Linked DNA regions of Homo sapiens: region 1 is linked to region 2. Evidence: fine-mapped expression QTL. Tissue or cell type: tibial nerve. Region 2 holds a variant in brackets; the other region holds the start of a gene. All regions are shown on one strand. Distances are from middle to middle. Region 1 holds the start of FMN2 (formin 2). Region 2 has its middle 33 kb from the start of FMN2.

Region 1 (16,214 bases), 32 kb after region 2:
ATACATATAAAGTATATATATATAAAGTATATATATATAAAGTATATATATATAAAGTATATATATATAAAGTATATATATATAAAGTATATATATATAAAGTATATATATAAAGCATATATATAAAGTATATATATAAAAGTATATACATATAAAAGTATATATACACACACACACACACACACACACACACACACTTTGAATTCTAAGCATCAGCACTTTCTCTTAGAATGTAAGAGCCAATGCAGTTATCACCATATGGAAAAAGGCCAGAAAAAGGTGAAGTAGAAAATACAAATGTTTCAGTTAGGGGCAATGGCTTGCTTGCTCACTATAAAACAAATGCCTTCATCCTTTGCACTTCTGCACAGGCATTAGGGGAAACTTGTTCTGATCAGAAAGGGAGTTTTAAACTCACATCTCTCACTGCAGATCTTTCCAGGGAACTGCCCTCAGATAATGTAGACTTCACTAGGAAATGGCTGGTTGTTGGGTTTTTGTGCAATGCAAAGCGGTACCTTCAAAGAGGAGCTTTGCATCAGCTTCATTTTCCTCAGAAGAGCAGGAGAAGGCTAGTGGGAAATTTGATTTCACACATCTTTATTGGAGCTTCATTTGTATAAAGGTGATCACTAGGAAGGGAATTTTTTTTTTTTGAGAGGGAGTCTCGTTCTGTCGTCTAGGCTGGAGTGCAATGGCGTGATCTCGGCTCACTGCAACCTCCACCTCTTGGGTTCAAGCAATTCTCCTGCCTCAGCCTCCCAAGCAGCTGGGATTACAGGCGCCCACCACTACTCCAGGCTGATTTTTGTACTTTTAGTAAAGACAGGGTTTCGCCATGGCTGGTCTCGAACTCAGCCTCCCAAAGTGTTGGTTTTACAGGCGTGAGCCACCCATGCCCGGCCAGACAATTTTACCATCCATAACATAGCTAGTGTTTCTCGTAGTGGTATAGAAACATCTGTCTGCCATGCTGGCTGGCTCACACCTATAATCCCAGCGCTTTGGGCAGCTGTGGCGGGCAGATGTCAAGAGTTTGAGACCAGCCTGGCCAACATGGCAAAACCCGGTCTCTACTAAAAATAGAAAAATTAGCTAGGTGTGGAGGTGTGCGCCTGTAATCCCAGCTACTCATGAGGCTGAGGCAGGAGAATCGCTAAAACCCAGGAGGCAGAGGTTGCAGGGAGCCAATATCGTGCCACTGCACTCCAGCCTGGGAGACAGAGCCAGACTCCGTCTCAAAACAAACAAACAAACAAACAAACAAAATCTGTCACCAGAGTCTAAGGGAAAGGTGATTGTATTACTTGCTTACTGGGATTAATTTATCAGTACCTATGACAACACTTTAAATCTTTCACTCAGAGATTAGGAGGGGAGGATAAGAAAACTAATTTGGAAGTCTGCCTCTCCTTGCTCAGACAACACATGAAAGGTTGCTGCAACTCTTTAGTGCTTTAGTGCTCATCTAGTCTTTCAGGCACTTCCTAGCCAAGGAAACATCTTCTAGCTGTTTCTTCCTCTGCTCCACTAAAGCTCCTGGGACTTCATTTATGGCAGATAAAAAACAATTAAATATAAGATTTTTAAATGACAATAAAAATAAAAAGAGCAATTGAGCAATTGGGTTGTCTTTTTTACAATTTAAAATTTCCTGTCTTTAGACATCCTAGAGTTGTTGATTCCGGGATTCCTGGGGAGAAAGGCTCAGGGTCGGCTAACTTGCCTTCATCGAGGCAATAGTTTTATGGGCCTCAGGCAACAATGGCTTAGAGAGCGTCCAACTAATCAATCTCAGCTGTAGGGATGGAAGTGGGTGGGTGGGTACAGCTCAAGCCCTTGGTACAAAGCAGCCCGCTAGTCTCTAAGATATGTTATCTTAACTCCCACAAAGTGCCAACTCCCTTCAATATTTAAAGAACCTGAGGCCAAGCACAGTGGCTCACACCTGTAATCTCAGCACTTTGGGAGGCCGAGGCAGGTGGATCACCCGAGGTCAGGAGTTCGAGACCAGCCTAGCCAAAATGATGAAATACCATCTCTACTAAAAATAAATACAAAAGCTAGCCAAGTGTGATGGAGGGGGTGCCTATAATCCCAGCTATTCAGGAGGCTGAGGCAGGAGAATCACTTGAACCCAGCGGGCAGAGCTTGCAGTGAGCCGAGATCATGCCACTTCACTCCAGCCTCGGTGACAGAGTGAAACTCCGTCTCCAAAACAAAACAAAACAAAATAACTTGAAAGAGGGCTTAGAGGCCGGGCACGGTGGCTCACGCCTGGGTGGCTCCTAGCACTTTGGGAGGCCAAGGTGGGAGGATCACGAGGTCAGGAGTTCGAGACCAGTGTGGCCAATATAGTGAAACCCTGTCTCTACTAAAAATACAAAAAAAAAAAATCAGCCAGGCGTGGTGGTGTGTGCCTGTAATCCCAGCTACACGGGAGGCTGAGGCAGGAGAATTGCATGAACCCGGGAGGCAGAGGTTGCAGTGAGCCAAGATGGCGCCACTGCACTCCAGTCTGGGTGACAGAACGAGACTCCGTCTCAAAAAAAAAAAAATAGAAAGAGGGCTTCAAAAGCATTGCTTGAAGCCTGACCTATTTGTTTTACTCCTGATTTTGTTCGTGATTCATTGAGAATATTTGAGTTCTAAGCGCTTTGCCAGCAGGTGATGGTGGTGATAAAGCACACTTGCTTCCCGCCCTCAGGGAACTTGCATTGTAATGGGTAAGAGCCAAGACAGACAATGAACAAGTCAATAATCAAACATATAATTACAATTGTGATCAAGAATTTGAAGGTTAAGACAGATGCTCTAAGACAGGGAAATAACCTACTTTAAAGGAGGCCTCTTGGAGAAGCTGAAATTCATGATAAAAATGGAGGTGAAAGGCAGGGCGCGGTGGCTCACGCCTGTAATCCCAGCACTTTGGGAGGCCGAGGTAGGCGGCTCACGAGGTCAGGAGGAGGTCAGGAGTTTGAGACCAGGCTGACCAACGTGGTAAAATCCCATCTCTACTAAAAATACAAAAATTAGCCGGGCGTGGTGGCGGGTGCCTGTAATCCCAGCTACTCGGGAGGCTGGGGCAGGAGAATCGCTTGAATCTGGGAGGCAGAGGTTGCAGTGAGCCAAGATCACGCCACTGCACTCCAGCCTGGGCGACAGGGTGAGACTCCATCTCAAAAAATAAAAATAAAAATAAATGAAAAGGAGGTGAGAAGGATTAAGGCAAGCAAAATAGATAAGAAAAATATTTGGGCACAGAAAAAAGTGAGAATCAAAGCCGGGCACAGTGGCAGAAATGGTATGTCTTCACTTAGAAAGGGTATATATGTCTAGAAATTCAATACCAGAATTCTTTAGCTTCATAGGAATTTCTCTGTGACATAAGAACAAAATAAATATTTTTATGTCTTCTTTTGTTTCTCGGTTGCCAATTATCCATAAACGTTTTGGCTAATACGCGTTGAATGCGAAAGTATGCCTATATAATGAAGAGGGAATTTTTCAGAGGAAGCTAGTGAGTTTTCCAGAGGTTAGGAGACAATGGCTTTTATGTTTCATTTGTAGCAGGGAGGAACTTAAGTGACCTAGAATTTTTTACCTTTAAATTTTTTCCAGTGTAGAAACAAACTTGTAGTGCATTCTGTATTGCTTGGGGAGAGGAATATTTCACTTTTTCTCTGTTGTATAAACACTTTAAGTTCTGCATTGGTGATAAAATGAATAATGGTGGTACAAATGGAAAGCTATATAACTAATTGTTTGTCATACACATAATCATCACTGCAAAATGAGCTCTGGGAATTCCATTCTAGTGACCAGGAAATCTCTGGTATGAGCAAGGACTTTTTATAATGTTACCAAGTATGTTGGGAATTGAAATATTTATATAGATTGTGTAGTTTTTAGAACTTAGAGTGCGTTAGAGAAGAGTTAATTCTCTATTTAAGATATTTGGTACTGTAGATAGACTATTTAAAATCTGATTTGTTCCATTAGGTTCTCCCTTTAAGTTCCTGATTTAATTCAGTTAACTGGTTCTCCCTTTAAGTTCCTGATTTAATTCAGTTAACTGGTTCTCCCTTTAAGTTCCTGATTTAATTCAGTTAACTGAGAAATGTAATTTTAATTTCTTATTTATTTCACTCCTTCAGTAAACATTTATTGACTGTCAGCTGTGAGAGTCTTCATGCTAAAGCAAGTGTCTGCACCACGGGATTACTGATATTATGGGCTGAATCATTCTTGCTTATGGGGCGCGGTGGTCGGGGGAGGCTGTTGAGCAGCATCCTTGATGCCAGTAACATTATCCCCCTACCCCACTGTGACAACCAAAAATGTCTCCAGACAGTGTCATATGTTCCCTGGGGAGCAAAATCATCACCCCAGTCCAGAAGCATTGGTGATAATGGGAAGGAGCAGATGAGAGTTGGAGGTGGGGGTGGGAAGGAGGCAAGAGAAGTGGCACTTGGGGTGGGACACATGAATGCATTTAAGAGACATTACGAAAAAAGAATAGAGAAGTCTTCGTGACTGGTAAATTATAGGGACTGGGGAAGAGGAAGGAGTAAGCAACAACACTGGTTTGGGAAACTGGAGGGATTGTAGCGCTCTTACTCAAAGAAAAAACAAAAGAAGAACAGATATGAAAGAAAATATGAGTTCAGTTGCAGAGACATTGGATTTGACTGGAGGCATGGTGTTCTCTAGGAAGTAGGTTCAGGAGTCGAGTGTGTTGGAGTGAAGTCAGGACTGAGAGGTGGATTTTGGAGGGCAAAAGATTAGTAATTGACACTAGGGCAAAAAAGTGTCATTCACCTGCTAGAGAAATGGATGAGTTGGATAATTAAGATGCAAACTAATTGTTCTATTAGAGATTCTAAAGCATTCCACCAAGGTTAAGCAGAAATAAAAACTAACAAAACAGAGCAAAACACCAAGTATCAGAAACATTTCAGTGTATCTTATAGTCAATTAAGAGGGTAAATGAGGAGGAAGAGAGCTGGAAGAAGAGAGAAAAGGAAATGAAATGGAATTCTGACAGACAGGTAATCGTGAAGGAGAGGAAGATTCATTTAGTATCTTTTTTATTTTTATTTCTTTGAGACAGAATCTCACTCTGTCACCCAGGTTGGAGTACAGTGGTGCGATCTCCGCTCACTGCAAGCTCTGCTTCCCAGGTTCAAGCGATTCTCCTGCCTCAGCCTCCCTAGTAGCTGGGACTACAGGTGCCCGCCACCACGCGAGGCTAATTTTTTGTACTTTTAGTAGAGACGGGGTTTCACCGTGTTAGCCAGGATGGTCTCGATCTCCTGACCTTGTGATCTGCCCGCTTCGGCCTCCCAAAGTGCTGGGATTACAGGTGTGAGCCACCACGCCTGGCCATTTAGTATTTATTAATTGCTATCAACCATTACATAATTTAATTTCAAAAAATCTGGGAAATGCATGTATTCTTTTTTTTTTTTTTGAGATGGAGTCTTGCTCTGTCGCCCAGGCTGGAGTGCAGTGGCATGATCTTGGCTCACTGGAAAGCTCTGCCTCCATGGTTCATGCCATTCTCCTGCCGCAGCCTCCGGAGAAGCTGGGACTACAGGCGCCCGCCACCACGCCCGGCTAGTTTTTTTTTTGTATTTTTAGTAGAGACGGGGTTTCACCGTGTTAGCCAGGATGGTCTCGATCTCCTGACCTTGTGATCCGCCCGCCTCGGCCTCCCAAAGTGCTGGGATTACAGGCGTGAGCCACCGTGCCCAGCCACGCATCTATTCTTGTAACCCACTTTCTTCTTCAACATTTGAGCATGAAAAGTTTCAAACAGTCCAGGTGTAGTAGCTTATGCCTATAATCCTAGCAATTTGGGAGGCAAAGGCAGGAGGATCTCCCGAGCCCAGGAGTTTAAGCCCAGCCTGGGCAACAAAGGGAAACCTCATCTCCACAAAACAAATTGAAAAATTGGCTGGGTATGGTGGTAAATGCCTGTAGTCCTGGCTATTCAGGAGGCTGAGGTGGGAGGATCACTTGAGCCCAGGAGCTCTAGGCTGCATGAGCTGTGATCATATTACAGCAGTCTGTGACAGAATGAGACCGTCTCAAAAAAAAGAGAAAGTTTCAAACATACAGTAAAGTTGAAGGCAGCTCCCAGTGAACACCCATATATCTACCATGTAAATTATATAATTAACATTTTATTATATTTGTTTTATCACATATCTGTCCATGCATCTGTTAAAGTATCTTATTTTTTGATGCAGTTTAGAATAAGTTGCCAAAATCAGTACACTTAAGCCAACTACATCAGCATACATATTCTCAGCTAGAGTTCAATATTTGTTTAGAGTTTTCTAACCTACTTTTACTAATTGAATTTTTAAAGCCCATATCCAATTTCCTTTGTGGGAAAATGGGTGGTACTTTATTTTATAAAAATAGTTTTTGTGACCATTTTGGAATGCTAACACTGAAGACTTTTATTGATAATTACACTAGAATTACTCTAGATACATCAATATAGAGGCTGGTCACTTTTGCTGTTTCTCGTCTGTGTCTTGCTACCAGGATGTGGCCAGGCGTGAGGTAATATCTCTAATTATCTGTTAAATCTAGTTTTGCAACCACAGATATGATATTCTTACCTGATCAAATGGAATTAAGGTTAGGCCATGTTTCAGGCATCCTTAGGAATACTAAATAGCTATTAAATAACAAGAACCCTTTGGCAAAGCTTTGTAGTTTGCCTTTATGATATCCTTACCGGTCCCCCAAGAGTAAACTATGCAGTGTTTTATGTTATAAAAAAATTGTGGTCTAAATTTGCAGGTTCCAGTATTCTTTCTGCTGCTATGTGATCTTGGACAAATCTCTTAGCCTCTCTGAGCCTGAGCTCATGCTTCAATTATCCTTGAGTTAAGAGCACCTATGTGTATTTGATACCCACACTTGTGAATTTCAAATGAGCCTTTGCATGCAATAGAGATTTGTCAGCTGTGACCTGCTGCACAACTGTCACTGTGAAAAAAAATCATCAATTCTTTCCCTCCCTCCTTCTTTCCCTTCTTTTGTCTTCTGAACGTCTAGAATATAGCACAGAAGAAAACAATAAGGAAATCAGTAGTTCAGAATCAAAGACGTTCTGCTAAAGAAAGAGCAAAAATCAAGATTCAAAGTACCTCAGCACTCAAAGAAGCAGAAAATTCTAATAGCTGCAGGCAAATTGTGCCCTCTGAGGAGCCTAGATTCTAGAAAAAAGGAGAGAGCAGTCTTGTGAAAGAGGTGAAACAAAGGCTTTTCATGTACTCCGGAATTGCTTGGAGACTGGGATATAACCCTGGCAAAGTTATTAAAGTTGATTTCTCTAAAGCATTTACTCGAAAGGGCCACCTAAGGATAACTGGCTAACTGCCCTTAAATTACATTTATTTTTAAAAACATAGTTTGAAAAAGGTTAGTAACCAAAGACTTACAAGACCAACCTTTTTTAAAAAAGAATTTTAAAGGCTGGTTCATAATATGCAAAGGAAGACTACACATTTGCTTGCTACATTTAAGTTGCACAGTATAATATATAGCTTTTCTCCCTCCTCTGGGTTATTTTGAAAATATTAATAAGTTGGATGTCTATTCCATATTTTCAAAGTGGTTATCAATGACTTTTACTTAAATACTTGTAAAACTTATTAATGCCACTTTAATCTCAGTTTACTGCTTAAAGCTTTAGATATCCATATTTTTTTAAAAAAACTATTCTTAAAAAATAGGTAACTAAATTTAATAAATAATGAAAACAATGACAAAATATTCAATGAGGAAAAATGTTTATCCCCATATTGTGGCCAGAACGTTAAGAAACTTTTACAGGACGAAGTCTGCCTGGAAGGGTTTGCTTGGGAAAGTGGTAGTTTATAGCATAACATCTGATTTTGTGTGTTTGTGCCAAGGGTGTTTCCTTTCTGTCTTTTTCCTTTTTATAGGCAGCCACAATAGTGACATGTTTAATATTGATGAGTTTGACCTCCTGGGAGTTATCGTATATGCACCCTTTTTGAATACAAATGCTGTTTAATTTATATGGTAAACACATAGAATTTGGAGACTAGCATTTTAATCAACACTAATCTCAGTATTTTCTACTTCTCCTACCTCTCCTTCTGTCAACAACAACAAAAAAATCACAAACCAATTTTATAAATGACAGCTAATGTCCTCTCCTGGAGAAGCAGGGTCTGTGTGTGAAACATAAAAGCAGCACCATGTGTAGTAACCTCTCCTAAACCATATGCTCAAGCACATTAACAGTGTTCAATTAGATGATCAATTATTCAAGAAACAGAACAATCCATTCATTCAACAAATATTTATTGAACAGCCATGCAGAGGCAGACAGGGGGTTGTGTATGTGGCTGTGACCCGATGGCACCTCTAAACTGGAATTGGGCTTCAGTTTTTCTCCGTGTAAAAATTTCTTCTTTTTTATTTAACTTTTCTCTTGGCAGGTCCAGCAGCTTTGAAGATCAGAGTGCATCTTCCAGCTGACGATCTCTTCGGTCGGGGACAATGCATTCGATTCGCACGGTGGAGATTAAAGTCCCCGAGATAGAGGAAACGTTTTTCGCGCCCAGGTTCAGCGAGGAGCCGCGCGGGGGCAGAGGGGGCGGCGGCGGCGGGCGGGGAGCCAGGCCCGAGCTGCGTTCTGCGCAGCCATTGGTGGGCGCCGCGCTCTGCACTGAGCATGTTCGCGCCCCGCCGGCCCCTAGCCGCAGCCGCAGCCGCAGCGACGGCAGCCACGGGAGCCGCCGCGCATTATGCAAAGCGGCGGCAGATGCGAGCGGGGCCAGCCGGGCGCGCGTCGGCCTCCCCTCCCAGCGGCTCCCCCCGCCGCCGCCTGACTCTCCCGGGAGACTCCCTAGGCCCGGACCTGGGGCCGAGGAGGGCCGGGATGGCCTGAGTGCCCGCGGCGCGGCGGCGCAGCAGCGGGATTGCACCATGGGGAACCAGGATGGGAAGCTGAAGAGGAGCGCAGGTGATGCTTTGCACGAAGGCGGCGGTGGCGCCGAGGATGCGCTGGGGCCCAGGGATGTGGAAGCCACAAAGAAGGGGAGCGGGGGCAAGAAGGCGCTAGGCAAGCACGGCAAGGGGGGAGGGGGCGGCGGCGGCGGCGGGGAGTCGGGCAAGAAGAAGAGCAAGTCCGACTCCAGAGCCTCGGTGTTTTCCAACCTGCGGATCAGGAAGAATCTGTCCAAGGGGAAAGGCGCCGGCGGCTCCCGCGAAGATGTACTGGATTCCCAGGCCCTGCAGACCGGGGAGCTGGACAGCGCTCACTCCCTGCTCACCAAGACTCCAGACCTCAGCCTCTCGGCGGACGAGGCCGGCCTGTCGGATACCGAGTGTGCGGACCCTTTTGAGGTGACCGGTCCAGGGGGTCCTGGGCCTGCCGAGGCTAGGGTCGGGGGCCGGCCGATCGCCGAGGATGTGGAAACTGCAGCAGGGGCGCAGGATGGACAAAGGACCAGCTCGGGCTCGGACACGGACATCTATAGCTTCCATTCGGCTACGGAGCAAGAGGATTTGCTTTCAGACATCCAGCAGGCGATCCGCCTGCAGCAGCAGCAGCAGCAGCAGCTCCAGCTCCAGCTCCAGCAACAGCAGCAGCAGCAGCAGCTCCAGGGCGCCGAGGAGCCTGCAGCGCCCCCCACTGCCGTCTCCCCTCAGCCCGGGGCCTTCCTGGGCCTGGACCGGTTCCTGCTGGGGCCGAGCGGCGGGGCTGGGGAGGCCCCGGGCAGTCCGGACACCGAGCAGGCGCTGTCCGCGCTCTCCGACCTGCCCGAGAGCCTGGCCGCCGAGCCCCGGGAGCCCCAGCAACCGCCGTCCCCCGGCGGCCTCCCGGTCTCCGAGGCGCCCAGTCTCCCGGCAGCGCAACCCGCGGCCAAAGACTCGCCCTCCTCCACGGCTTTCCCATTTCCCGAGGCCGGGCCGGGGGAGGAAGCGGCCGGAGCCCCCGTGCGAGGGGCTGGGGACACGGATGAGGAGGGTGAGGAGGATGCTTTTGAGGATGCGCCCCGGGGCTCTCCGGGGGAGGAGTGGGCCCCGGAGGTGGGAGAGGACGCCCCGCAGAGGCTGGGGGAAGAGCCGGAGGAGGAGGCGCAAGGACCTGACGCCCCCGCGGCCGCTTCCCTGCCCGGCAGCCCCGCGCCTAGCCAGCGCTGTTTCAAGCCCTACCCGCTCATCACCCCCTGCTACATCAAGACCACCACCCGGCAGCTCAGCTCGCCCAATCACTCCCCGTCTCAGTCCCCTAATCAGAGCCCCAGGATCAAGAGGCGGCCGGAACCCTCCCTGAGCCGAGGGTCCAGAACTGCCCTGGCCTCCGTAGCCGCCCCGGCCAAGAAGCACCGGGCCGACGGCGGCCTTGCGGCCGGCCTGAGCCGCTCGGCTGACTGGACGGAGGAGCTAGGCGCCCGCACGCCCCGGGTGGGAGGCTCCGCGCACCTGCTGGAGCGCGGGGTGGCGAGTGACAGCGGCGGTGGGGTGTCCCCAGCACTGGCCGCCAAGGCGTCTGGGGCCCCCGCGGCTGCGGATGGCTTCCAGAACGTGTTCACAGGTGAGCGCGCCCTGCTGCTGGCCTCCGGGTCTCAAGTCGCCTGTCAGTCAGGGCCTTCCCCTGCCACCCGCCCTCCCTGGGCTCTGGAAGGCGGTGACCTGGTAGTGGCACATCTCTTCTCCGTAGGGAATCCTTTTCCGCCCAGCGAGCTCACCCCCCACGGTGAAATGACTTGGACATACTTGTTGGTTTTCTGTGTTCTTACAAGATCTTAAAGGGAACAACTTAGTTGTGTCTGTCCTAAGTTGCTCTGCCCATTTCACCAAAATACCTGCTATTCACAAAGTTTCGGGTCACGCCAGGGAGATAAACTCCTTTTTCGTCTCGTTAGCTAAACCATCATTCTTCTCTTTCATTTTTCATCACCACAGCATTAAAAAGAAAAAAAATTGTTCATGGTTCTTTCGCAAGAGTCGGTTTTGGAGGCACAAATCATTTATTCCGGTACGATCCAAAGGCAGTCTCTGACCGCTCTCATAGCTGTGTGTATTTGTCCACGTTTGGTATGTATGTGATATGTAGTTTCTATCTTGCAGCAGTCTGGGTTCCGCTGCTTAGTGAAGTTAAGCGGTCACTCACTGCTGTTTGCTGCTGCAAGAAAATCCGATACATGCTATTAGAAAATTAATAAATAAATAGAATAGTAGGGATAATTTTCATTCAGTTTCATGGTCCAGCCCAGAACAGCCTGTAGTTTGGAGACAGTGAAGGTGGAAAGGTCAAAAGCACGTCTAGTCCAACTGGTACCTCCCCTCCCTAGCATATGTTATAGACTCATACCCAGGGCGGCATAAAGCACAGCCAGAGTATGTTTGCTCTGGTCAGTGTCAAGCAGTCCAATGAGTTTATCCTAGCTTACAGGCTTACAGGGCCCAAGGCCTTACCTTAAGAGCCCAACATGTTTACCTAACCTCTATTCTTAATTATTAAATGAAATAGAGTGTTAGAATTTAATGAATCGAAAAATATGAAAAGTTACATGACTACTGATAGGTTTATGATAAATATTTGAAGGATTAAACATTTCAAATGCAATCTGAAAATTTTAAAATCTTATGTTCTATTATTTTAATAAATACATTATCTGTAAAACATTGCTTAGATGAAATTTCTCGGCACAGACAGCGACTTCTTAGTTGACTAAATGCTGGTAATATTGGGGTAGCTACTTTTATTGACCACATTTTAATTTTCATCTGTGGGCCACCTTTTATTTTGCCCTTATAGGGTCTTACCCTTAAAAGTAGCTTCTTCCATTCATTTCACATACTCTTATTTTTCTTCTTTTCCACCTTCTCTTTATTGTGTAGATTGTTAAAAAGAATGTTTGTAGTTTTATACCCACTAGATAAATTGTAAAAAAACAAAAACAAAATGCAAAACAAATAAAAAAGAAAGATCACTTTTGATAGAAGAAGATTGGAAAGTTTTTGCATTAATTTTTGTGAATTTAATGTTGGTAAGAAATCACATATTTTCTCTTTATCTAAGTGACATTCACGTATATAGTTTTTGAAAAGTGAAAATAATTCACCATAATGATTATCAATCATTAATATTAATGATAGCTATTCCTACTAGCATAAGACTTTGGAAATTTATTTATTTCATTCATTTAGCAAATATATATATGTATATACATTTGTAAGCATATATGTGCATACACACACACACACACACACACACATTGAGCAGCCACATTGTGCTAGGCAGTATTCTAAATAGTAGCACACTGTGCTAGGCAGTATTCTAGATGTAGGTGATACATAGACCATTAAATCATGATTTTGCCTTTCTAAGGCTCGCTGACTAGTGAGGAGGAGACATGACATAAGTGCAGTGCACAGAAATATCTGTATAGATATAGACATGCAAATCACTGCTGGGAACATCACGGATGCAGTGGCTTATCTGCTTGGTGGCAAGGGGTGAGGGAAGAGGACTTGAGAGAGGAGGATTGAACAGAGTCCTGGAAGATCACAAGACCCTAAATAGGTTGAATGTTTGTTTTCCTTTAAAAAAACAAGTGTCTTCTTGGAACTTGCATTTTAGTTTAATTTGCTAAGTATTCCCAAATTTGAAATTTGGGACTCTTAAAAGAGTCCTGTATAGGAACCACCTGGGTTTTGTTGACCTCTCCAGGTGATTTGTTTTTTAAATTGTGCAAAGTAAAATTGCAGAGCTAGTCGTTTTTATAAGGACATCACCTATTTTGTATTTGATGGTTGGATACAGCTGGTTGGTAATCAGCAAATATATTTTTGTGTAGCAGCTTCCGTATGTTTATGTCATTCACTCAGCATTGTTCAGGAAAAGAGGATCAGTAGGTTTTACCTAACTTTGTAACTGGTGGGAAAATGTAGATAGAGAAAGAGGTGAAATAACTTTCTCAAGGTCACACTGTGATTCATTCAGAGGCAGATCCAGAAATAGAAACTGAGTCAATGAATCAAGTCTAATGTCATTATTATTTCTGTTTGGATATACAATGTTTTAAGGCCATATAGAGAGTAAAAACTGTTTATAAAAAATGTGATCAGATTTAGGGCCTTTCTTTAATTAGATTTTCCAGTTCCTGTTTTTAATAAGGTGTCCTCCTTTAATGGTTGAACATCTGGCCTTCCTTGAGCTGGATGAAGGGTGATTGTTGGCCAGAGTGAACCAGATTTTCTCTAAGCAGCTCTCATGGAAACTGTTCTTATGGTGGTCAAATGAATCCAGATTGACACAGGCCCTTGTGTCTCAGCTGTCAACTCTTCATGTCATCTGCCACTACGTTTGCTTCTTTACTCTCCTCTGCTATTTTTTTACGGGTGTCTTGGAAATTACCAGAGGCTTGGGGAACACTGGCATTGTCCTTAGGGAAATTTCTTTTTGGCCTTAATTTTGCATGTATTTGGATCAATTAATTGCCAGCTGCCTTTGAAGCAGGTGATCATTATATCTATAAGCTTCCATAAGCATCTTTTATTTTTAAACCATAGAATGAGGGTTGTCAGCATTACAGGAAGAAACAGATGTTTTTCGCTTTTTACCGCCTTCCAAATGTAGGGAGAAAATACAAGTGAAAAGGGATTTCTATGGCACATGTCTGTGTCTCTTTGGTAGATCTAAAAACATTTAGCAATGAGGGAGACCAAACTTTATCTTGTTTTAGCTATTAAGAAACTGATGATGCCTTAGGCCATTGCATTTAAGTATTTCATAATTAATGTGTTTGAAATACATCTTTTTCAGTGTTTAGTAGAAAAAATGGCGTCTGAAATTCGGGAGGTTCCTTTACATATTAAGTATAACAGAAGCTTGGTACTGGAGTTTTGCAGTTAATTAAAGTTTAGATATCCAACGTGTTAAATTTGTGATGCTAAATCGCTTTTGATAGGAATCTTTCCCAAGTCAATTATGTGCTTATCTTTTTTTTTAAACACATGGAATAAAAGTTTAATCTGTTTTAAAGGGCTTAATGTCATCTTCAGGCACATCATTGTTACATCTTATAAAAACATTAGTGATGTCCTCAACAGCTATTGAAGTGTGTGGGCTGTTGGCTTCAGTCTGTAGTTTCTGAGTTTTTGTGTCTGTGTAGTTTCTTGATTGTTTTCTTGCTGCCAGCTATTTATTGTTATAGCTGCCTTTTTTTTTTTTTTTTGAGACAGAGTCTCGCTCTGTTGCCCAGGCTGGAGTGCAGTGGCACGACTTCTGCTCACTGCAAGCTCCGCCTCCTGAGTTCACGCCATTCTCCTGCCTCAGCCTCCTGAGTAGCTGGGACTACAGGCGCCCACCACCATGCCCAGCTAATTTTTTGTATTTTTAGTACAGACGGGGTTTCACCGTGTTAGCCAGGATGGTCTTGATCTCCTGACCTCGTGATCCGCCCGCCTCGGCCGCCCAAAGTGCTGGGATTACAGGCGTGAGCCACCGCGCCCGGCTATAGCTGTCTTTAGTCTCTTTGCTCCTGTCCCTCAATTTTTTTGTAATTTGACTTTTCTGATCAATTTGCAATTGGCTTACAATTCCTGTAATTATGATATTGGTTACACTTATTGTACTTCTAAGTGCCAGACTCTGTTGGTGCATTACATAACTATCTGTAATCCTTAACAACAGTCTTGAGGTGTAGCTGTTTATCCTCATTTTTCGAATGAAAAAACCCAGGCTCAGACAGTAAAGTAACTTCTTGTCTAAGGGCATTAAGCTAGTAAGTGGCCCATCCAGGATATGTCCTTAGAAAACCAAATCTGTTGTTAATATGTATAAGATGAAACCAAGTAGATCATTGAGCTTTTGGAGGACTAGCTAATTAATAAAGTGCATAGGCTCTAGAACTTGGATTGTGCAACTCTGATTTTGGCCTTTCTAAAGGTTATCTTGAATTTTTTTTTTTTTTTTTTTTTGGAGACAGATTTCACTCTTGTCGCCAAGGCTGGAATGAAGTGGCGTGATCTTGGCTCACTGCAACCTCCGCCCACTGGGTTCAAGCAATTCTCCTGCCTCAGCTTCCAGAGTAGCTGGGATTATAGGCGCCCATGACCACACCCAGCTAATTTTTGTATTTTTAGTAGAGACAGGATTTCACCATGTAGGCCAGGCTGGTCTTGAACTCCTGACCTCAGGTGTTCTATCTGCCTTGGCCTCCCCAAGTGCTAGGAGGCCTATCTTGATTTTTATATCAGTAGAGGGAAGAACCCACTCTAGGAGTACACATTTTCTCATACGGCTTGGTAAATTGCTACATTGGATTTTTTTAAGGCCAGGAGTAGTTTGATTTCCAGCAGAGCCCCTGACAGAGTATAGATGTCCAGTTAATGTCTGACGAATGAAGGTCAGAATCTGCCTGATACGTATAAAATGTCTTATTATAAAAGGAAAGGGGTTTATATGAATGCTATGCTTTCCCCTAAATACTGCCTTACTGGGTTCCATATATCAGAGAAGAATTTGGCGATGTAAGCGGGGACCAGAACACTGATCTTCAATCATTTTAGATGGGTCTGAAACATCCTTTCTCATGGTTTCTTTAGGCCTGTGGTTTGGATTGAAGTCAAGTGCACCAGTAGCTTCAGGGATGGGTTTTAATGACTGCTTTATGAGTTGAGGATGGGCCTAGTTTTAAGAGCTTTAGGCGTTTGGATATAAGCCATGCGTATTTGAAATGGAGCAGGTACTTTTAGTGCTTTTCCTTCTGATTCTTCTGAAAAGATACAGAAAATATACAGTTGGATGAAGGTAGCAGTAGTTATTCTAACTACGTTTATTCTAGGTATATTTGCAATCCTAGTTTTGCTGTTTAGCTAAGTGAGTCTCCAGTAATTTTTCCTCATATCTATGAAGGTAGAAGAATAATTTCAAATTAATACTATTAAGATGAAATGAAATAGCATACATAAAGCCCCTACAATTCTGCCTGGTACATGAGAGGCACTTAACTGGGGCTATTTGCTCTCCTGACTGGATTTATTATCTTAAAAAAAAAGTCATTGTTCAAAGTGATCAGAGCCAAATTTGTTAAAACAACCCTGAAATTGTATACAAAACTTAGCAGGATATGAACTGACCAGATACTAGTTGAGCCCCAGTTTTGTTTTGTTTTGTTTTTTTTTGCAAATTGTTTATGTAT
Region 2 (16,214 bases):
GACACAAGGATCGCATGAACCCGGGCAGCAGAGGTTGCAATGAACCAAGATGGCACCACTGCACTCCAGCCTGGGCAATAGAGCAAGATTCCGTCTCAATTTAAAAAAAAAAAAAAAAAGACAGTGTCTAACTGAAGAACATTATGTCCTCTGCTTTTCCTACTCATCCAGCGGATTCACAGTTTTTGGTTTGAACACTGAAGAATAGAAATACTTCTATAGCACCAGAGTATCGGCAAATCCTCATCTTTTCTTTAGTAATGTGTCAAGCATTTGCAAGCTGGTGAAGTGGATTACGAGGCTGCAATCACACCACTGGAATCTAATGAATAACACTTTTCAAAATCTTAAGTTCTTTTTAAAAAAAACAGGTTTAGCGAGATATAACTTATATACTATATAATTCACCCATTTAAAGTGTACAATTCAATAGCTTTTATTATATTCATAAAGTTGTGCAACCACCACCACAACCAATTTTAGAACTTTTTTTTTTTTTTGAGACAGAATTTCGCTCTTGTTGCCCAGGCTGGAGTGCAATGGTGCAATCTTGGCTCACTGCAACCTCTGCCTCCCGGGTTCAAGCGATTCTCCTGCCTCAGCCTCCCAAGTAGCTGGGATTACAGGTGTGCACCACCACGCTCAGCTAATTTTTTGTATTTAGTAGAGACGGGGTTTCATCATGTTGGTCTCCAACTCCTGACCTCAGGTGATCCACCTGCCTCAGCCTCCCAAAGTGCTAGGCTTACAGGCATGAGTCACCATACCCGGCCAATTTTAGAACATTTTTATCACCCCAGAATAAACCTGTACACATTAGCCGTCACTCCCCATTTCCCCACAACCTCTCCCAGACCCTGGCAACCACCCATCTACTTTCTGCTGTGTGGATTTCCCTATTCTGTACGTTTTATAGAAATGGAGTCACAGAATATGTGGAACCTTCTTGGTTTTTTTTGTTTGTTTGTTTGTTTTTTCTTGAGATGGAGTCTCGCTCTGTTTCCCAGGCTGGAGTGCAGTGGTGGGATCTCAGCTAATGGCAACCTTCGCTTTCCAGGTTCAAGCGATTCTCCTTCCTCAGCTTCCTGAGTAGCTGGGACTACAAGCGTGTGCCACCACTCCCGGCTAATTTTTGTATTTTTAGTAGAGACGGGGTTTCACTGTGTTGGCCAGGCTGGTCTCGAACTCCTGACCTGAGGTGACCCAACCCGCCTCAGCCTCCCGAAGTGTTGTTTTAAGTGTAGGGGTAGGGAAACAATTGTCTGCTTTTCTATTATTGTAAGTTTCTTTTCTTATAATATTTAGAATCCTTTTGTCCCTAAATAGTATCTTTGTAATTCTTATCACAGGTGGAAACAGAAAAGAGGATGGTCCCAAGTTTTCCATGGTGTTTTCCACCTGGTGTCTTGGTACAAATGCTCTGTGCTGACACTGTTGGGGATGGGAGGGCATGTGAAATCCATCTGCTCTTGTCAGGCAGCCAATGCTAACTGTGGGGTCCCAGCAAACTAAGTCACCCATCAAAGTAATCTGGAGTACAGAAGTCAGAAATCTAAGGCTAAACTGAAAGTCCATGAGAAAGAGTTGGGAGTGAAACATTCGAGTAATTAGTTCAAACATCAAATAGAAGTAGACAATAGCAAGATTGAAGTCAGGGTATGGTGTCTAGTGTTTAAAGTTAGACAGAAATCAGATCAGAATATGAGTAGGTAAGAAACAAGCACTTAATGTAAATGACGTTAGTGAAAGGCCTTTAATATTAGAAACATCGGGCAGGACGTGGTGTCTCATGCTTGTAATCCCAGCACCATGGGAGACGGAGGTGGAGGCGGGTGGATCACTTGAGGTCAGGAGTTTGAGACCAGCTTGGCCAACATGGTGAAACCCCATCTCTACTAAAAATACACACCACAAAAAAATTAGCTAGGCATGGCGGCACATACCTGTAGTCCCAGTTACTTGGGCGGGGAGGCTGAGGCAGGAGAATCACTTGAATCCAGGAGGCGGAGGTTGCAGTGAGCCCAGATCAAGCCACTGCTCTCCAGCCTGGGCCACAGAGCAAGACTCCATCCCCCTCCCCGCTCCAAAAAAATTCAGAACATAGGTAGTGCATTGAAAGACACTGAATGACCAATTATTCTTTGCGCTGATTCTTTGCGTTCTTGGAGGATGGGTAGACATTGTTGATTGCCTTCAAAATAGCCATTTCCTCCTTTCCCTGCATCACTCCGACATCCCCTCCTCCATTCTGGCTAAGTATAGGACTGAAAATGCTGTGTATTCTATTTCCATTCCTTCTTCCAGTTTGTGCTAAGAGTGAGATCTAACTGTGGCCCATGTGACCTGGTGGGAGATTGCTGGGAGACTTATTAGATTGGGTTTTCTCCCTAGTTTAAAAAAAAAAAAAAAAGATCTTATATAATTAACCTTTGTTTTGTAAGACATTGTCTTTGTCTGATTCCTGAAGTGTAACAACTGTCTTGAAACCAGGAAGGGACAAGTCAAATGACAGCAAAATTAGAATATAGAATACACCCAAGTCCCTGATACCAATATGGCACTTCTGATTTAAACAACCATAGGATGCCTTATCTTCACTTTTAAAAATGTGAGTTTTAACTACTTTCAATAACGTTCAATAATGTACTCTGATCCTTTTTTTTTTTTTTTGAGATGAAGTTTCACTCTTGTTGCCTGGGCTGGAGTGCAATGGCATGATCTCGGCTCACTGCAACCTCCGCCTCCCAGGTTCAAGCGATTCTCCCGCCTCAGCCTCCTGAGTAGCTGGGATTACACTCAGATACTTTTTATAGGAAGCATCCTAAAATTATATGCTGAAACTAATATACTGCTTTCAGAAGATCGTTACTTATGAATCTTAATTACAATGGAAAGGACACAGTTGTACTTTTAGTGTGATGGAATTACCATCACAATTAACCATTGGAATTACCATCCAATTACCACTTGGGTTTCTGATCTGGAACATCCTTCTAATGAATGTTGCATTTGGTCAATATTCCAAGAGCTAAAGATAGTATTGTGTACTAAGAGATCTTAAGAGCTGAGGGCGACACGCAGTGTTACTTGGCAGTGAATGCTTCCTCAGAAACAGTGAAATCATGGAAACGTCAGGGGCGTTTGAACTAGAGCAACTCCATCTTGAATAGGGGCTGGGGAAAATAAGGCTGAGGCCTCCTGCGCTGCATTCCCAGAGGCATTCTTAGTCACAGGATGAGATAGGTCAGCACAAGATACAGGTCACAAAAGCCCTGCTGATAAAACAAGACACAGTAAAGAAGCCAGCCAAAACCCACCAAAGCCAAGACGGCAATAAAAGTGACCTCTGATCATCCTCATTGCTCATTATACACTAATTATAATGCATCAGCATGCTCAAAGACACTCCCACCAGTGCCATGACTATTTACAAATGTCATGGCAACGTCCAGAAGTTACCCTATATGGTCTAAAAGGAGGAGGAACTCTCAGTTCCAGGAATTGCCTGCCCTTTCCCGGAAAACTCATGAATAATCCAACCCTTGTTTAGCATAAGCATATCATCAATAAATAACTATAAGTATATTCACTCAAGCCGCCCATGCCACTGCTCTGCCTATGGAGAAGCGATTCTTTATTCCTTTACTTTCCTAGTAAACTTTCTTTCACTTTGCTCTGTGGACTCGCCCAGAATTCTTTCTTGCGTGAGGTTCAAAAACCACCCCTTGGGGTCTGAATCGGAACCCCTTTTGGATAACAGAAACATCAAGGCACAGTGCCCAAAATGGGCAGTATATGAAGGACCATATAAGTTCCTCGAGGTTGGGAGGGGGTGCAGGGAAGGAGGTTGATTTTCTTTGAGATATGGGTTATACACCTGGCTTCTATCTGTAGTGCTTTGGTTTGATTTATAGCTGAGCTCATTGACCAGGACCTTGTCTATATGACATCTCAATTTCCCTTAATCTATTTCAGTAAAGATTCAAAGGCAAGACTTGGCTGGAAACCAAAACACATCATTTTGATTAGGGTTTTGGGTTCAGCAAAGGCTACAAGCAGGGCCTGTAACTCCTTATGATCGACACATTGTGATATTGCCCAGAAGCAGTTTTGATGGCTCTTGAACCAGAACTCTGCTTTCCTTTTTAAATTAAAATGATACAGATGATACAGTTTTGCTGCCTGGTGGTCCTGCCCCTTTTGGAAAGTGATCAGGTCTTATACGGAGCAACTCTACTATACTCCTGTCTTCATCCCCTATCTCCACATTAAGGAAGATCAAGAATCAGAAAGGGTGTATACATTCCCTTCAAGCAATTACCTCTATCTTCAAGCAAGAGTCTGCTCAGCAAAAGCCTCTTCGGACCACCCCAGCTAACTGCAGGGTACCTCTACCTAAGCCCAGAACGAACTACTGGACTGTCAATGGTCCTGGCCACAACTTTGCTCCTGTAGGAAAGTGAGAAAATGGAAAGTCAGATCCTGAGGCCAGAGCTGCAAATAACACAGTGTGGGATGGATAAGTAGCCAAATTACCATAAGGCAAGTTGCTAAGTGCTGTGATAGATGATCAAAGAGAAGAAAGTAGGGAACCCCAGAGAAGATGGAGATGGGAGATAATTTTCAAGTCTACATTTAGGAAGGAATATTAGAGCTGATAGTAAATTCCACAGGAGGTTGCCCTGGGGTGTAGGGATAGGGAAGGCTTTTTAAGCAAGGGAAGCCAGGAGTACACATAAAATCAGGAATACCAGCATGTATGCATTGTACTTAGGACACAGTGAGTACCTTAGATAAAGACAGTATACTTTATACTCAAGTGTACTTTTATATTCAGGAATGGAAACAGAAAGATGGTGGTGGGGAATGCAGAAAGGTAAGATGGAAAGATAAATTGAAGATCTATTATGAAGGCTTTGACTGGCATACCCTGGAAAATGGCCTGGAAACTATTGAATGTTTCTAATCTGGTCAAATAATTAGGTCCCTCCCAGATCACATGCCTACAGAGGCTGGACACTTAATGTAAATTATGAAGAGGCCCCCAAGTGGAGATGGTGATGAATTATGCCCGTTTAAAAGGGTTTGTGCTACCCAGCTGCAGGGGATTTTTACCATTTGAAAAGACAAACCAATGTCCCCAGATCTTTAAATTGTTAAAAAGAAGTCAGGAAGCCAACTACACCAAACTCCCAATTTCTAAATGTTGACAGCTAATTTAAAACCAAAGTGAGTACATTCTGTTGGCCAAACAACACATTTCTATAAGCTGGATTTGTCTGGATCTGAAAGCTTCTGGATTTTCACTCAGCCCTAAACAATGCTGCAAAGTAGATAAATTATGTGTGTGTGTGTGTGTGAGAGAGAGAGAAAGAGAGACAGAGAGAGAAAGAGAGAGGGAGAGAGAGGGAGAGTCCATTTTTATGGTTTCATCACGTTGAATTTTTAAATGAGATTTGAAAACCCAACGTATTTAAAGGGTCAATTAATGGCAACACAGCTCAGGAGACAGGCTGCACATAATGGCTCTGTGGTTAGAAGTCTAGCCCTAGGACTGAAACCGATTTATTCAGTGACCTTGAATAAGGTCATTAACCATGAGTTGGCTTCAGCATCTGTCTCTAACACATCCAAGGTAGCAACTGCCAAGCTGCTAGGAGAAGAGCTCACTGAAGAGATTTAAACACTTAGCTCCCTCCCAAAAACGTGTTTTCAAGAACTCACAATCATCTCTGTCATTTGTTTCATTTAAACAGTTCTCATGAATTTTGCCAAGATTATCAGCACACTATAATAACGTCTGAAAACGACACTTATTAAACACTATCAGCTGAATGTAAGCTTTCACAGCATTGTAAAACAAACAAACAAAAAAACCCAATACTTGTTTTATAAATTATGACATACGTTTTCCAGGAAAAAATATCTCTATTTGTTTCCAGTCAATATATTTTTTTCAACCCCTTAGGCTCTTAAACTAACTCCCTTTTAAAAGCACAGTAGAAAAATAAAAATGTATTCAATATTTTCAGCCTCGTTCTTCATAAGCAAATAAATTGAGAGGAGAACTAATATTTACTTCTCTTCTTATCCACTCAGGTGGCTGCATTTGAGATTTTGAATATGAATTATCTATATATATATCCGATCCTGCAGTCAAAGCGATGAAGAACGCTCATTTGCATTATAATTTTTAGCAAGACATATTTAGTTAACTATAATGGACTTCTTTGTATTTTGATACCAAAGCATATTTAATATTCCCATGTTGTATTTGTCAAACCTAAATGTGTGCTGCACAGATATGCAAAATAATTATAATTTTAACCGTTTCAGTTCAACTAATATATTTCATATATTCCAAAATTACTACATAGCATATGCTACCATATTTCCTCTATTTATTTGTATACAATTCTTCTTCTCTCTTGATATGGTTTTTCAGTCTTTAGTAACGCCTTCAATCTCATCCAACTTATTACTGGCATTAAAAAATAATCCTTGTGCTTCTCATTTGCAAACTTTGTGATATTTCTTCAACATTATAAATTAATTGACTGCTCTTCTTAAACACCTTTAGCATTGGCAAGAAGCAGTGGCTCATGCCCGTAATGACAGCGCTTTGGGAGGTCAAGGCCAGGGGATCACTTGAGGCTAGGAGTTCAAGACCAGCCTGGGCAATAAGCAAGACACTTGTTTTTACAAAAACTCAAATCGTTAGCCAGGTGTGGTAGCATGTGCCTATAGTTCTACCTACTCAGGAGGCTGAGGCAGGAAGATTGCTTGAACCCAAGAGCTCAAGGCTGCAGTGAGCTGTGACATTGCACTCTAGCCTCGGTGACAGTGTCTCTTAGAAGAAAGAATACACAGCCTTGATCTTACAAAATCAATGTACACATTTCATTTTTGTGCATTGTAAGTATGGTGACATATTCCCCACTTCACTCCCACTGCTTCCCCCTACCCCTTCCTCTTTAGCGAGAGACCACCTGCTCCAACAATTTCACCCATGTTTTGCTACATTCTTATTTGCATTCTTTTCTTGGCATCTCCTGCGTCATATAGAGCTGATTCTATTGGCATCTGAGTGCATTTCTCACCCTCTACCCTCCTACATGCAGCTCGCCGGCTACTCTGTCCAAGCCCATCTTCTGACTGCGCTCTTTGTCTTCCTCA[C/T]CCACTCCCAAACTCCATCCCTTGTTTTTTATTGACCTTTATGCTCGGAGCTGCCTCCCACGAACATTCATAAACCTCCTTACCACAGTCTCCCAAATCATTTCCCCAGAAGGCTTTCTAGTCTTGTAAGCGTTCCTATTTGTGTCGGCATGCTATACTCTTAGCTGTTTCTGCTCATGTACAGCAATTCTCTTTTCTTCCTTGAAAGATTTCATCTGAAACCTTATTATTTTCTGAATTCCTTTTTTGAACAGGAATAGTCAGGGAATTCACAGCAATATAGGTTAAATAAACACACCTAACATTTACTTTGAAGTAAATAAGGCCAACATGAGCGGGAGTCATACTCTTGCCTGATGGTCAAAGGGAACAGTGATAGCAGAACCAAAATTGTTCCTCGCATGTGGGAAATTACATCTTTGTTATGGTATTTTCATAAGCACTACTTGCCGGGTGCAGTGGCTCACGCCTGTAATTCCAACGCTTTGGGAGGCCAAGGCAGGAGGATTGCTTGAGCCCAGGAGTTTAAGATCAGCCTGGGCATCATAGTGAGACCCCTTCTCCACACACACACACACACACACACACACACACAAACACATTAAAAATTAGCTGGGCATGGTGGCACATGCCTGTAGTCCCAGCTACTTGAGAGGCCAAGGTGGAATGACTGCTGATCACTCCACTGAACTCCAGCCTGAGCCAGACTTTGTCTCAAAAATAAATAAATAAATAGTAACAGTAAGCGCTACTATCAGGAAATTTGAACTTTTTTATAAAAGTGCCAGGTCAACATTCTGAAAGTCTTTTTAAAACTGTGTTTAAGCATAACGCTTCCTGATTCTTAGACTCCTTCAGTTGTTTCGCTTTGTATGGTATATGAGACTTGAGGGTCCAGGCACGGTGGCTCACGCCTGTAATCCCAGCACTTTGGGAGGCCAAGGTGGGTGGATCGCCTGAGGTCAGGAGTTTGAGACCAGCCTGACCAACATGGTAAAGCCCCGTCTCTACTACAAATACAAAAATTAGCCGGGCGTGGTGGCCCGTGCCTGTAGTCCCAGCTACTCGGGAGGCTGAGGCAGGAGAATCACTCGAACCTGGTAGGCGGAGGTTGCAGTGAACAAAGATCGCGCCACTGCACTCCAGCCTGGGTGACAGAGCAAGATTCTGTCTCAAAAGAAAAAAAAAAGACTTGAAAGAAATTGTATGTCTTTAAATCTTTTTGAAAGCAGACACTATTATATATTTTTCAACTAGAGCAACTAGCAAACTAGCTTTTGGAGGACCTCTTTGTCATCCACTTGTTGCAGGCTTCTATACAGTTTCCAAAATCTGAAATTCTGTATCTGTCTTTGTTCATTGTGATCAGATATAAACTAAAGGCAAAAATAACAGCAATCAATAGTAATTATAAGCTTTGGACTCCTTGTAAATGAAGGTCAGAGGACAGACTGCCAAACTCCTCTTGGGAATGATGGCTCCCAGTCTGGGAAAAGACCGACACTAAATAAATTGTTCCCTGCCTTGCCCAAGGGCTCAAAAAGTGCCTTTTGTCCTGAACTGTAAAAGTAGTGAGGAGAAAATGTGGAGGTTTAAGCTCCTCATTCAGTCTCCTCCAACCATTCCATCAAGCGGGACATCCTCTCTCTCTAAACTTCTATTGCACTTAGATTTTTGGCCACTGAACTTTCTTGGGGTCAACCATATCGTCTTTTCTCTCTCTGTGTATTTGTTTTCCTGCTACCTTCTTATATAGAATTGCTGGAGGTAGGGGCCATAAGAATATATTAGCTTTTCTTGTCAGTTCACCATTAGTACAATGCAAATGGGAGATATATCAATTCATTTAAGGCATACCCACTATGCGCCAGGCACTGCGTGGGGTCCTAGAGATATAATAGTAAATAAGACACTGCCCTATCCTCAGAGGTATGAAATCTAGAGGAGAGAGACAGGCAAGCAAATAGGCAAACACTTTGAAATATGTGTAAAGGCCACCATAATACTTCCTTTTTGCCCTCTGAAGGTTCACTGAAAATCAGCTGACAAAAGTCGAATTAATAGGAGAGGCCAGGCGTGGTGGCTCATGCCTGTAATACCAGCCTGGACAACATGGCAAGACCCCATCTCTACAAAAAAAAAGTTACAAAATTTAGCTGGGCAGGCTGGGTGTGGCGGCTCACGCCTGTAATTCCAGCACTTTGGAGGCCAAGGCAGGTGGATCACGAGGTCAGGAGTTGGAGACCAGCCTGACCAACATGGCGAAACCCTGTCTTTACAAAATATACAAAAAGTAGCTGGGCATGGTGGCACGTGCCTGTAATCCCAGCTACTCAGGAGGCTAAGGCAGGAGAATTGCTTGAACCTGGGAAGCAGAGGTTGCAGTGTGCTGAGATCGTGCCACTGCACTCCAGCCTGGGTGACAGAGTGAGACTCAGTCTCAAAAAAAAAAAAAAAAATTTAGCTGGACATGGTGGTGCATGCCTGTGGTCCCAGCTACTCAAGTGGCTGAGGTGGGAGGATCACCCAGGCCCTGGAGGCCAAGGCTACAGTGAACTGTGATTGTGCCATTGCACTCCAGCCTGGGCAATAGAGTGAGACCCTGTCTCAAAAAAAAAAAAAAAAAAAAAAAAACAGAGAGAGAGAAATGGTATACAAATTTATTAGCATGCCACAAGAGGGAAATCCCCATTATGCAGTGGCGATAGATGCTTATTTACCCTTCTTCTTAGGTGAAAGGGAGATGGGGAAGTATGGATGATTTTAATGGGGTAGTAAGTGATTTTTTCGGAGAATTTAATGGGCTTGAATCACATACAATGGTCTGGAACATTGTCTGTGGGGCCCGCAGAGCAGACAATGGTTCGTGACGAAAATGTGTCCAGATGTGTTGACAGACTTCAGTCATTCTTCCAGCAATGAGTTCAGTGACGAAAACTCAGGGAAGGGACGAGAGGTCCAGACTTTAGGTGGATAAGGAGAACAACCTCATCCTTTGGGAGAGACAGAGGACTGAGAGACAGACCTGGGGCCAGAGGGGAACAGGGAAGATCAGATAGACTTTGAGACTTCTTCTTCAGTTCAACATGTCAAAGTGCTATATTTTGGGGTATTGGTTGGGTATTGGTTTCTGAGCCACAACATGTGATAAATGTGATCATTGAAGCCAAGGTTAGGGGCTCTGAGAGCATATTCGAGAAATTTGAAGGGTCCCGGATGAGCTCTTGGATGAAGTGACTTCTAACCTGCAATCTGAAGTTGGGTAGAACTTAGCACGGAATGCAAGGGTGGCGGAGGGGAGCAGAAAAGTTTTCCAGACAGCTTTAATGGCAACCCCAGAGACGAGAAGAAGTAGACAGCACATTAAAAACAAACAAACAAACAAAAAAACAGTAAATAAATCCGTCAGTATATTTGGAGTTTCTAATGGCGGTGTGGATTGGAGGTGGGGAAAGAGGAACTGTGCTATGCTGAAATGAACGTCTAAAGGTGAGCAGAGCCTTAGAGACAAAAGTTTTCATGAGAGACAGAATAAACAAACAGACAATGGCCAGACCCTGGATGACAACTGACCCACAACCTCTGAAGCAACCAGTCCAGGATGTCAACCAAACCACAACCTCTGTAGCATTGACTCAGAACATTCAGGGCTGTTGAATGGTCAATGACTGCCAGCTTCCCTCCCTATTCCCTCTCTCCTTGACCCCATCCAACTCAGGACCAACCAGAGAAAGCTAAACACAAGAGGACTTCAGAAAGTTCATGGAAAATTGAAATAAAAGATTTAAAAAATATATAAATTGTATTTCTCAATGTATGTTTCATCAAGTTTAAGACACATTTGTAAGTGATGATACCAACCATTTAGTCCATCCCTAAAGAACTAAGGGTCCTAGAAGTTTAACCGTATCAATGCAATCTTTGTTACATTATTAACTGAAGAAGAATGAATGCCCTTTAAATATGTTTTTAAAATTAGCAAACATAAAGAAGTCAGAGGGAGCCAAATCAGGACTGGAAGGTGGATGTCTAAAGATTTCCCATTGAAACTGTGGCAAAATTGCCCTTGTTTGATGAGAAGAAGTGAGCATTGGCATCGTCATGGTGGAGAAGGACTCTCTGGTGAAGCTTTCTTGGGAATTTTTCTGCTAAAGCTTTGGCTAACTTTCTCAAAACATGCTTATAATAAGCAGATGTTATCATTCTTTGGACCTCCATGAAGTCAATAAGCAAAATGCCTGGAGCATCCCAAAAAACTGTTGCCATGACCTTTGTGCTTGACTGGTTTTGCTTTTTTATTTATTTTATTTTTTAAGAAATTATATAACAGAGACAGGGTCTCATTACGTTGCCCAGGCTGGTCTTTAGCTCCTGGGCTCAAGCAATCTTCCCACCTTGGCCTTCCTAGTAGCTGGGACTATAGGCGTGAGCCACCACTCCCAGCCCCTGCTTTTGCTTTGACTGGGTCACTACCACTGCTGGATATCCATTGCTTTGATGGTGCCTTGTCTTCAGGATCATATCGGTAAAGCCGTGTTTCATCTCCTGTTACAATTCTTTGAGGAGATGCTTTAGGATCTTGATTTCACTTGTTTAACGTTTCAGTTGAAAGCTCTGTTCTTGTCTGCAGCTGATCTGGGCACAAAGGCTTCGGCAACGTTGAGTGAAAAGTTTGCTCAAATTTAATTTTCCGTCAGAATTGTGAAGCTGAACCAATTGAGATGTCCATGGTCTTGGCTATTTTTTTCTGATGTCAACCATCAGGGCATGAACAAGATAAATTCTTTCCTCACAAACTGATGTGGATGGTCTGCTGCTGTGGCCTTCAGCTCCGATGTTGTCTCCTCGCTTCTTCTTTTTTTTTTCTTTTTTTGAGACGGAGTCTCGCTCTGTCACCAGGCTGGAGTGCAGTGGCACCATCTCAGCTCGCTGCAACCTCCGCCTCCCGGGTTCAAGGGATTCTCCTGCCTCAGCCTCCCAAGTAGCTGGGACTACAGGCGCATGTCACCACACACAGTTAATTTTTGTATTTTTAGTAGAGACGGGGTTTCACCATGTTGGCCAGGCTGGTCTTGATCTTTTGACCCTGTGATCCACCCAGCTCAGCCTCCCAAAGCGCTGGGATTACAGGTGTGAGCCACCACGCCCGGCCGCCTCCTTGCTTCTTAAAATGAGTTATCCATTTGTAAACTGCTGATTTCTTTGGTGCATTGTCCCCGTAAACTTTTCATAAAGCATCAGTTTTTCCCACTCAACACTTTTCCCAGTTTTCCCACTCAACACTTAATGTTTGCTCTTGCTTCAATTTTAGCAGAATTCATGTGGCTCTGATAGAGGCTCTTTTCAAACTGATGCCTTATCCTTAGTGTGTCCAACCAGCCCCCGTTCAGACATGTTACAAAAAGTTACTATGAGTTTATTTTGGTGAAAGCAATTTTTGAAATCCATAGTTTTTTCATAGTACACATTTTCCATGAACTTTGAAGGACCCTGTATGCTCCTGAAACCAGGCACGTAAGATGCCCCATGTCATCAGCCTCCCCAGTTCCCCAGTCAGAGCACTCTGGAAGCCTTCTTTTTTTTTTTTTTTTTTTTTTTTTTTTTCCAGTATAAAGCTTTCCCACTCCTCTGCTTACCTTTGAGTCTCTGCCAGAGGGAAGTGATGGTGGCTGAGTCCCTTGTCAGGGCAGGCTCTGAATCAATACCTTCTGTTTGTTCTTATTTGGGTATTCTTTGTTTATTTCCACATACAATTGCCAACACTACCACCAATATTTATAATTGTCTCTTATTTGGCACACCAGAGGTGTTATACCCTGAAGGCAAGGCAACATATTAAGATTTAGGTTGGGTGAGAATGATGCTTTCTTTTCTAAAGAAAGAAAAGAGCAATTATGAAAGTGGGAGGGGAGGGGAGTAGGAAAGAAAAGGAGAATATTTTGACCTTGAAGCATATTCTCAGATTAATTTTAGAAAATAATATCTATGGAAGTTTAGGATCAAGAAAATAATTCCTGATGAACCTTCCCAGGAGCCCTTTTTGTTGTTGTTGTTTCTTTTGTTTTTTTTGGTTATTTTCTTGAGGCAGGGTCTTGCTCTCTTACCTAGGCTGGAGTACAGTGACACAAACACGACTCATTGCAGCCTTGACCTCCTGGGCTCAAGTGATCCTACTGCCTCAGCCTCCCATGTAGTTGGAACCACAGGTGCATGCCACCATGACCAGCTAATTTTTTTATTTTTTAAAAATTATAAATTTTGGTCTTGAACTCCTGGGCTCCTCAAATTCCTGGGCTCAAGTGCCTTGGCCTCCCAAAGTGCTAGGATTACAGACATGAGCCACCATGCTGGCCCACACTCTCTTTATAGCTACCTAGTCCATTATTACATATTCTCAGCATGGCGTTTTTCACTGTCTGATATTTCCCCTTCTCTTCCTCCCTCCTTCCCTCCTTATTTCTCTTTTGACCTCTTCTCAAGTAGAATGTCAACTCCATGAGACCTATGACAATTTTATCTGAAAACCTAGGGCAGTGCTTTGTCCATAGTTTGACACTGAATATATATTTGCTGAATAAGTAAATGAGAATAGAGAAAATGTCAAGAAGTTGAGGACATTCTCGTCTGATGGTTTGTAATTGCTCTGTGAAGTAGGAGGCCAAGTAGGAGACTAAAAGTAGAAATAGTGGAGTGGGCAAGTTGAAGAGGGTGGAATTTGGGGTGGTGAGAATGGAAGAAAGTGATGACAAAGAGAACACAGATTAATTGTTGGACAGCATTTAGGCCCTGCCACTCTAAAAATACAATGATTGCATGAAAGAATGAATGAATAAGGGCATGTCATTCTGCTGCTACTGTTCTGAAAAGCGCTTCTGAGAAATTGAGCTAAGCTTAATCACACAGTATGTGTGGTAGACAGAAAAATTACCTTCAAAGATATCCATATCCTAACCCCTAGAATCTGTGAACCTGTTGCCTCACATGACAAAAGGGACTTTTATAGAAATGTTTAAAATTTAAGGATTTTGAGGTGGGAAGTTTATCTTGGATAGTCCAGGTAGACTCGATATAATCAGAAGGGTCTTTATTAGAGAACAATGGAAAGGAAACTCAGAGTTAGAGGAGATCTGAAGATGGAAGCAGTGGGCAGAGTGAAGGAAGAAAGGTGATACAAGCAAGGAATGCAGGTGGCCTTTGGAATACACAAACGGTAAGGAAATCAGTTCTTCCCTAGAGCCCCAAGAAAGAACACAGTCTTGTTGACCCCTTGATTTTAGGTCTTCTGACCTCCAGAACTGTAAGGTAATACAGTTGTGTGGTGACTTACAGCAGCAATAAGAAATTAATATACCTTCAGTTCTATGCAGAACGTGCTTCTCAAACCATAATCTGAGACCTTCTTAAAATGTAGCCTCTGATTCAGTAGGTTTGATGTGGTGAGACCTGAGATTCTGCATATTTAACAAGCTCCCAGGTGAGGCCAGCCCTTTTGGGCTACAAACACTTGAAGTAGAATAAATCTAGAAGGCACCATCATGACAAATGAGAGAAATAGCTGTTATGGCCATACAGCATGTCTTTCATTTGTGTAGTTTTTCCAAACTTATAAATGAATATTGCATTTTATAAACACAGAAATGCTATAAAGCAGATACTAATATCTTTCCTATCACTGTCAAGAGAAAGGATATTCAGAAAGGGGTAAGGGAGGAGACCACACCTCATATTGTCTTATGCCCAATTTCTGCCTCCAAAGAAAGAAGAAGTAAAAACTAAAAGGGAGAAATGAAATCCACAGGCAGACAGCCCGGCAACGCGCCCTGGGCCTGGTAGTTAAAGATGGACCCCTGACCTAATCGGTTATGTTATCTATAGATTACAGACATTGTATGGAAAAGCACTGTGAAAATCCCTGTCCTGTTCTGTTCAGTTCTGATTACCGGTGCATGCAGCCCCCAGTCACGTACCCTCTGCTTGCTCAATCGATCACGACCCTGTCACGCAGACCCCCTTAGAGTTGTGAGCCCTTAAAAGGGACAGGAATTGCTCACTCGGGGAGCTCGGTTGTTGGAGACGTGAGTCTTGCTAAAGCTCCCGGCTGAATAAAGCCCTTAGTTCTTTAACTCAGTGTCTGAGGGGTTTTGTCTGTGGCTTGTCCTGCTACAGGGGAAGCCACTGGCCTGGGCTGCATACATGGTGCAGTCTATTTGGCTTTTGACAGAATCAGGCTTTTTTTTTTTTTTTTTGATGGAGTTTCGCTCTTGTTGCCCAGGCTGGAGTACAGTGGCCGGGTCTCGGCTCACTGCAACCTCTGCCTCCCGGGGTCAAGCGATTCTCCTGCCTCAGCCTCCCGAGTAGCTGGGATTACAGGCATGTGCCAACATGCCTGGCTAATTTTGTATTTTTAGTAGAGATGGGGTTTCACCATGTTGGTCAGGCTGGTCTTGAACTCCTGACCTCAGGTGATCCACCCACCTTAGCCTCCCACAGTGCTGGGATTACAGGCGTGAACCCCCGTGCCCGGCTGGAATCAGGCTTTGAGCTCAAGTTTTTTGTTTCCAAGTTCTTTTCACTAGGACAGTTAATGTGTGAAATGAAGAACTAGAAACAACCAAGTGTCAATGAACCCAGAAGCATCAGCGCTACTCAGGATGGGACATAAAGGACCAACAGCAACTACTGCAGAATTGAACTGACACAAGAACAGATGGGAAACAGAGATGAACCATTATTGGATTTTTCCATTTTGAGATTTGACCGAAATGGTAATCTTGTTTCAGATCATCTTGAAGATGCCTGTAGAGGGAGGCAATTTGCTTTGATCCAGCTACCTTAATAGTGAGTAAGTGTAAATTTGAAGCATTTTGTCACACTCTGCTATCTCACTTTTACCTGAAACTTCGTATTGTGTTTAGTCAGAATTTATTGAGCACCTACTTTGTGCCAAAGCACCATTCCAGACATTACAAAATCAAATATAGATAAGCGGTTGTCCCCGTACTCTCGGTTTTTACTGTATGGCAAAAAAGAAATAAATG

The links.
Region 1: it holds the start of FMN2, and the variant in region 2 is fine-mapped to the expression of FMN2 in tibial nerve (GTEx, PIP above 0.99).

What each region holds. Positions count from the first base shown.
Region 1 is chr1:240,083,128-240,099,341 of GRCh38, forward strand. FMN2 (formin 2) reads left to right here and starts at 8,756. Exons shown (of 18, transcript NM_020066.5): 1 at 8,756-10,597. The coding sequence starts at 8,983.
Region 2 is chr1:240,051,084-240,067,297 of GRCh38, forward strand. No RefSeq gene overlaps it. Among named protein-coding and RNA genes, the nearest start is that of FMN2, 33 kb to the right of the region's middle. The variant C/T (reference allele first, on the strand shown) is at 7,177.